Homo sapiens: one gene and its partner. The protein of the gene in region 2 purifies or fractionates together with the protein of the main gene of each other region. This does not show direct contact. Each region holds a gene or a part of one and is shown on either strand. Other genes may lie near its edges. The genes, in order: PGM3 and BDH1.

Evidence for each region.
Region 1: the proteins of BDH1 (region 2) and PGM3 purify together in Homo sapiens (affinity purification with mass spectrometry, with the first as the bait; one large-scale study listed by BioGRID). This does not show direct contact.

What each region holds. Positions count from the first base shown.
Region 1 is NC_000006.12:83,179,593-83,183,412, reverse strand, and holds part of PGM3 (phosphoacetylglucosamine mutase), read left to right. Parts: intron 1-434; coding exon 435-568; intron 569-1,481; coding exon 1,482-1,677; intron 1,678-3,445; coding exon 3,446-3,603; intron 3,604-3,820. UniProt on the Homo sapiens protein: Catalyzes the conversion of GlcNAc-6-P into GlcNAc-1-P during the synthesis of uridine diphosphate/UDP-GlcNAc, a sugar nucleotide critical to multiple glycosylation pathways including protein N- and O-glycosylation.
Region 2 is NC_000003.12:197,517,804-197,521,623, reverse strand, and holds part of BDH1 (D-beta-hydroxybutyrate dehydrogenase, mitochondrial precursor), read left to right. Parts: intron 1-3,820.

The DNA of each region.
Region 1 (3,820 bases), on a different chromosome or scaffold from region 2:
AAACTGGCTTCCGAACTAGCTTAGATCTTGGAGTTCTTGCCTTCGGGTATGTTTTGGCCTGATAATTCTGTCACTTTTCAGCACTGTAGTTCTTTTTAAAAGGAGGTTTTTGTCTTTTATCTAGCATGTTGGTTGTTTCCAGGAGGATGATTCATCTGAATTATGTAGTTTGCAATGTTACTGGAAACAGAACTCAATTATTACTTGTCTGTATTGCTTTATATTTACATTGTTACCTGTTTATATGTAATGATTGGTTTTTTGGCTTCTTATAGTCATTTATATTTCTTTTTAAGATCATTTTTATGTTTTCTAAGATGTCTGAGATGACACAAAAGGATTTGTCACCCTGAAATTCCTACACATGAATGCATTTAAACTTTTTTCTCTTTGTTAAGAAATGCGGTGAATTGCTTTTTGTATTTCTATGACAGATTATGGCTTGTTAACAACACCCCAGCTGCACTACATGGTGTATTGTCGAAACACGGGTGGCCGATATGGAAAGGCAACTATAGAAGGTTACTACCAGAAACTCTCTAAGGCTTTTGTGGAACTCACCAAACAGGTGAAAAGTTTATTGAACATGGTTAAAGTTAAACAAATGAATAAAGTAACATGGTCTACTGAACAAATTATCTTGTTTGTCATGCCTCCTCTTTCCTTTTCCAAAGATGCTGCATATCTCCTTTTTTGTTTTTCTCTAGGGCTACACAAGGTTCTGGTCTATGTATCCTGCTAACTTACATTGGCGTTTACTTGGCAAATTATGTAGTACATTCTGAGATACTTTGGGGAAGCAAACATGGTGGGGGTCTTGACGATGGTATCATAAGTATTCATTCAGATGAATTTGATCTTAGTTAATGTAGGTGCTGTTGGCTTAATACCTGAGGCATGTACTATTGAGATTTTCTTCTAGGTATATTGGCTTGTTAAATGTAGAGAGATTTGAGAAGTATAATTCGTTTGATCAACAAATATTGAGTATATGTCCTTACCAGGCACAATTAACTAAAAGCCCTTGCTCTCATAGAACTTATAATTTGGGGTGAGGATAGCTGGGAGAGGAGACAATTAGAAAAAAAACAAATCTGCCTGATGATGATGTCACATACTATAAAAAGAATGACATGTCATTACTGCCCATTTGTCTGTGTGCTTATTCTTGCATTTGAATGGCTCCCTTGTAATATTACTTTTAAGAGACCCTGTTAATTGAGACTAAATTCTAATAAAGCTCTATGCTATAAGTTGTTCAATCAGCAAAACTATTCTGTTGTTCCAGGTGTTTTTAAATTTTACTTTAGTGTTTTATAATTTTAAAAATTGAAAAATGAACACAATTATAATTGATAAAATTTAAAAATTAAAATGAGTTAACTAAATATTTACATATGCACATATGTATATATGCTTTATATTTCACATTTATTTTTATAACTTGAAATTTTTCTTCCATGTGTCTTTTTCCTTTGTAGGCTTCTTGCAGTGGAGATGAATACAGATCACTTAAGGTTGACTGTGCAAATGGCATAGGGGCCCTGAAGCTAAGGGAAATGGAACACTACTTCTCACAGGGCCTGTCAGTTCAGCTGTTTAATGATGGGTCCAAGGGCAAACTCAATCATTTATGTGGAGCTGACTTTGTGAAAAGTCATCAGAAACCTCCACAGGGTATGTCGTACTAGCACTGCAAAAATTTGTTTTTAATGCTCTTTGAAGCCAATCTCACTTATAAACTAAGGTGGTAAAGTGAGTTAAGAATCTTGCAGCTATTCCTGGCTCTGCCACATTTAGACATTGAGAAGTCTTCCCACTCTCAGAGCCATTGAAACATGGTCTGCTCTCTCTGCCTGTAAATCACACCATTCCTCATAGTCTACAGGAAATCAGGTGGGGAAAGCAAAGTCAGGAAATGGCATTCTAGAGCAGTGGTTCTCAAACTGGCATGTGTCAGAATCACTTTGAGGGCTTGTTAGCACACAGATTCCTGGGCTCCACTTCTGAGTTTCTGGAGGTCTGGCATAGGATTTGCATATGATAGAAATTTGCATTTCTATCAAGTTTGCAGGCTTTGTTCCCAGTGCTTGTCTGGGGATCCCTTTTTGAGAATCACAGATCTACAGGGGAGCATAGTAAGTATTATTAGATACCTTATCTGAATTAAATACACTATGGAAAGCAAATGTAACTCTGCTTATACAGTTGTTAGCAATCAGTGTTTTCCACTCAGTGCAGAATAGGAGGAAGACTTTTCTTCAGATTTTAGTTGTAGTAAGAGGTGTTCTGGATTTATCTGCATTATAGACCCTAAATTATTTGCTTAGGCCAAACCTGACTTGCAGATATGTTTTGTTTGGCTGGCTGCATTTGTGTGTTTGTCTGTGTGCCACTGTTTAAAAATTCCGTGACTTCTCTTATATATTGGAATCTCTAGCATCTCTTTACCAAAATCAGAAAATGTTCACACATGGCATTAGTCCACTACAGTCAGATAGATGCTGCTCCCCTAAAATAGGACATGCATTCTGGAACTCTACAGACTTCATCCAGTTGCCTCATTCATTCATGTTATTATGCTTTACTTAGTAAGCATTTAAAATGTCAGTGTAGTCAACCAATTTGAGCTCCTTTTCATTGAATTGCTTGTTTTGACATTTACTTGACAGTTCAGTTCTGCCACTTATTTATCCATTTCTTAAATACTGAGCTCTTACTCTCTATGCTCTAGGCTTTGGGACTACAGTATGAACAAAACCATAGTCCTTGCTTTCCTGAAGCTTGCATCATGTCCTTTCATCAATCTTATGATCCCATTCCTGACAAAAGCCTTTTACTTCTTAGTTGTCTCATGTTGAATTTGTCACTCTGCTGCTGTCATGGCTAAGGAATAGCCAAATTTTCTAATAAATTTGATGTGACAATTGCTGAGATTTCAGCAACTTTATGTAAATTTCACAGGCCAGTTATCTCTCAAAGTTATAATTCTTTGCTCTTAATTATCAGTGTTTCTTTTTATTGGTGGTATGAACAAATAAAAATCATTTCTGTTAGAATTAAAGCACATACATCATCTAGTGCTGATTATTTTTTCTATGTAAAGGAGATCACGGTCCTAGGTAAATTACATTCAGAAATACATGTAGCTTTCAAAAAACCTTTATGGGACACCTGTCTAGCCAAACCAACCTGCTTATAAAGTGGAATTTTATGGTAGTATTATAGCAAATATCAGCATAGATTTTGAATGCTCCTTTTTTCACTTTGCAGTGAAAGAATTTGACCTGTAAAAACCACTAATAAACTATGTACTATTTAAAGATTATACACTATTTAAGATTAAGACATTGATTTTTAGGTGGATAATTTTAAGAGAAAATTCTAAAACTCTTTATAATAAATTCTTAGACTGAAATGCATGTTAAATTATCCTGTGTGCTAGGAATGGAAATTAAGTCCAATGAAAGATGCTGTTCTTTTGATGGAGATGCAGACAGAATTGTTTATTACTACCATGATGCAGATGGCCACTTTCATCTCATAGATGGAGACAAGATAGCAACGTTAATTAGCAGTTTCCTTAAAGAGCTCCTGGTGGAGGTATGGTGGGGGGATTGGCTACCCTCTAAAACAAGACTTAGTAGTGAAATAGTTCCATATTTTACAATCATTTGTCAGAAGGGCACAATTTATGACAAATTCTTTACATTAGTGGGCAGAAAATTAAAAAAAGAGCAGTGGTAATACCCAGTCATTTGAACATTTGAGGCATTGGCTTTGGAACCTGAAGGTACTCTTTTCCTCCTTATACTGGCTG
Region 2 (3,820 bases):
CCCACCCTGAGGGAATGTCCAGGCTAGAAGAGCAGGTGCCCACGGCAGGTGACACTGGGAGTCGGGGAGATGCACAGAGGGACCCCTGGGAATGTGAGTGTTCGGGGATCAGAGGAGGGGGAGAGGCAGCTGTCAGAGAGGTTGGATACAGTTCCCCAGAGGCTAAACAACAGAAAGTTTGGAGGAGAGGGCAGTACCAGTAGCCAACAGGGTCAAAAGCTACAGAAAGTTCCAGTAGCATAAGGACTAAAATATCCTTCCAGTTCAGCCAGTGGAGGGCCTTGTGGGAGGAGCTCTGTCTGCAACCTCGGGGTGCCATTCATGTAGAATACAGCAGTGGGGGATGGAGCTCCCTGGAGCCGGGCCGCCCAGCAGCATCTGGAGAAGCGAATCTATGAAGTTTACCTTTGAGCTCCCTGACAGCCCAGGCAGAAAGGGTGTGCGTCATTCAGGCCTCTGCTTTCCCTCAGAATGGGGTGGGGCAGCTCTCAGGAGCAGCTACTTCAGTGGCTGGGGAAGGAGGCGGAAAAGGCAGGAGTGACCAGATCCCATGCGGGGAGCTCTGCTGAGCCTGTATCAGCCAGATGGATGTGCTGTCTGTCACAGCAGCTGCCTCAGAGGCTGCGTGTGTGGCTGTCGGTGATGCCGCTCCTCTGCCTGTCTCTGATGTGCCACCTCATCAGCCCACTGTCGCTCCCATCCTCCCAACAGGCCATTCACAGGCCTCTCTGTTCTCTGTTCTCGCTGAACATCTGTTTAATAATTAACAGGCAGAGCCAGCCCATTAAGAAAAGGCAGGATGGGTCCCGCTGGGGTGATTACCGGCTCAGAACCTGCAGCCTGCTTCGCCCTTCCCTGGCGGTAAATTCTCCTCCCTCCCACCTTCCCTGGGCAGCTGCTATATTTTCCTTCATAAACTACTGGGCAGGAAAACAGCTGCATCGGCACCATAAAGCCACTTGATTATAGCGTGGGTTTTGTGGTGATCTAAAATGCCCGTGGAAAGGCGTCATCACCGGAGACCCAAGCAGAGAACGCACCAGGCCGGCTTGCTCAGGCTGGCGGTCCTCGTCCCCTGCCCCCCTGACTCTGGGGCAGAATCACTTCCATTGTCTGTACTGGACTGGCCAGGCAGCCTAACCTACAAGGCAGGGTGGGCCCCGGCCCACACAGAGGGGAGGCACTCACCCCCTGCCCGGGGATCTGGGCTCCAACCCCAGCACCAGCCTGACGCGCAGACCTTTCCCTGCTGCTTTTCCCACGCCGGGCATTCCGGAGGGCTGGATGAACCTCTCACCATCAACTTCCTTAACCGATACTGCATTTTTTTTTTTTGGAAAAGGATTTGAAGACTTTTAGGTCTGAAGAAAACAGTACATCCGTCAGATATGCAGTGGCGTGTCCCCCATCTCCTGCTCTCGCTTTCTTCCCGTCTCCCTCTCCTCCCTCTCCCTGCTTCCCCTCCACACTCTGCCACTCTGCCATGTCTTGGCCTTGCCTTGGCAATTCCCCCTCAGGCAATGCCGGCTGTGAACTCCAGGGAGCACCCTCCCAGAGCGTTCCGACCCGCAGTGGCCGCCACCGACCCACACCCCATGCAGGACATGTCAGAAGGGTCCTCTTCCCCTTCTCCACCGGGGGGGCACATTTGGTTGGCGAGTTTGACGCCCTGCAGCCTGGCTCTGTGGAACAGTTGCTGCCAAAGCCCGGGGAGCCAGCCACGGGGGCGAGATGAAGGAGATTGTCTGGTGAGAGCCACAGAGCCATCTGCCACCGGCCCCGACCCCCGCAGGACGCTGAGGGACAGGACATCTGGAGCCTGGGACCAGCCCTCCCTGTCCCCACCCCAGGGGACACCGAGCCAGTGGGCCCGAGAGCAGGCCGTGGGCATGGCCTGATCTTGGCACATCACTTACCAGTCAGTCAGTCAACATTAATTAATTAATTAATTAATTTTTTTGAGACAGAGTCTTACTCTGCCGCCCAGGCTGGAGTGCAATGGTGCGATCTCGGCTCACTGAAACCTCCACATCCCGGGTTCAAGTGATTCTCCTGTCTCAGCCTCCCGAGGAGCTGGGATTACAGGCGCCTGCCACCATGCCCAGCTAATTTTTTTTTTTTTTTTAGTAAAGAAGGGGTTTCACAAGGTTGGCCAGGCTGGTCTCAAACTCCTGACCTCAGGTGATCCACCTGCCTTGGACTCCCAAAGTGCTGGGATTATAGGCCTGAGCCACCACGCCTGACCTGGGCTTCACTTATTAGAAATGTGATCTTGGGCTTGCACCTGCCCCCTGTGTGGGTCTCAGCTTGCCCATCTGTGAAGTGGGAGAGTGCTCTGAGCCGTCCAGCACTCATGCCTGGATCAGACCACTACAAGAGCATGGGAAGAATTTCAACACAAGCTGCTCGCAGGCTGACAGGCAGCAGAACATATGTGGAGGAGTAAGGGAGAAGCTTGGAAAAGGCCTGGCCTACCATGCTGTGGGATGGAGACCACAGAGCAGGAAGTGACTGATGGGGGGATCCACCTGAGGAGGGGATGGAGACCATAGAGCAGGAAGTGACTGATGGGGGGTGCCTGAGCGGGGGATGGAGACCATAGAGCAGGAAGTGACTGATTGGGGGGTCGGCCTGAGGGGGGATGGAGACCATAGAGCAGGAAGTGACTGAGGGGGGGATGGAGACCATAGAGCAGGAAGTGACTGATGGGGCGGGGAGGTCAGCCTGAGGGGGGATGGAGACCATAGAGCAGGAAGTGACTGATGAGGGGGGTCGGCCTGAGGAGGGGATGGAGACCATAGAGCAGGAAGTGACTGATGGGGGGGGTCGGCCTGAGGAGGGGATGGAGTCCATAGAGCAGGAAGTGACTGATGGGGGGGGGTCGGCCTGAGGGGGGATGGAGTCCATAGAGCAGGAAGTGACTGATGGGGGGGGTCAGCCTGAGGGGGGATGGAGACCATAGAGCAGGAAGTGACTGATGGGGGGGGTCGGCCTGAGGGGGGATGGAGACCATAGAGCAGGAAGTGACTGATTGGGGGGGTCAGCCTGAGGGGGAGATGGAGACCATAGAGCAGGAAGTGACTGATCGGGGGGGTCGGCCTGAGGGGGGGATGGAGACCATAGAGCAGGAAGTGACTGATCGGGGGGGTCAGCCTGAGGGGGAGATGGAGACCATAGAGCAGGAAGTGACTGATCGGGGAGGTCGGCCTGAGGGGGGGATGGAGTCCATAGAGCAGGAAGTGACTGATGGGGGGGGTCGGCCTGAGGGGGGATGGAGACCATAGAGCAGGAAGTGACTGATGGGGGGGGGTCGGCCTGAGGGGAGATGGAGACCATAGAGCAGGAAGTGACTGATTGGGGGGGGTCAGCCTGAGGGGGAGATGGAGACCATAGAGCAGGAAGTGACTGATTGGGGGGGTCAGCCTGAGGGGGAGATGGAGACCATAGAGCAGGAAGTGACTGATGGGGGGCGGTCGGCCTGAGGGGGGATGGAGACCATAGAGCAGGAAGTGACTGATTGGGGGGGGTCAGCCTGATGAGGAGATGGAGACCATAGAGCAGGAAGTGACTGATGGGGGGGGTCAGCCTGAGGGGGAGATGGAGACCATAGAGCAGGAAGTGACTGATTGGGGGGGTCAGCCTGAGGGGGAGATGGAGACCATAGAGCAGGAAGTGACTGATTGGGGGGGGTCAGCCTGAGGGGGAGATGGAGACCATAGAGCAGGAAGTGACTGATGGGGGGGGTCAGCCTGAGGGGGAGATGGAGACCATAGAGCAGGAAGTGACTGATTGGGGGGGTCAGCCTGAGGGGGAGATGGAG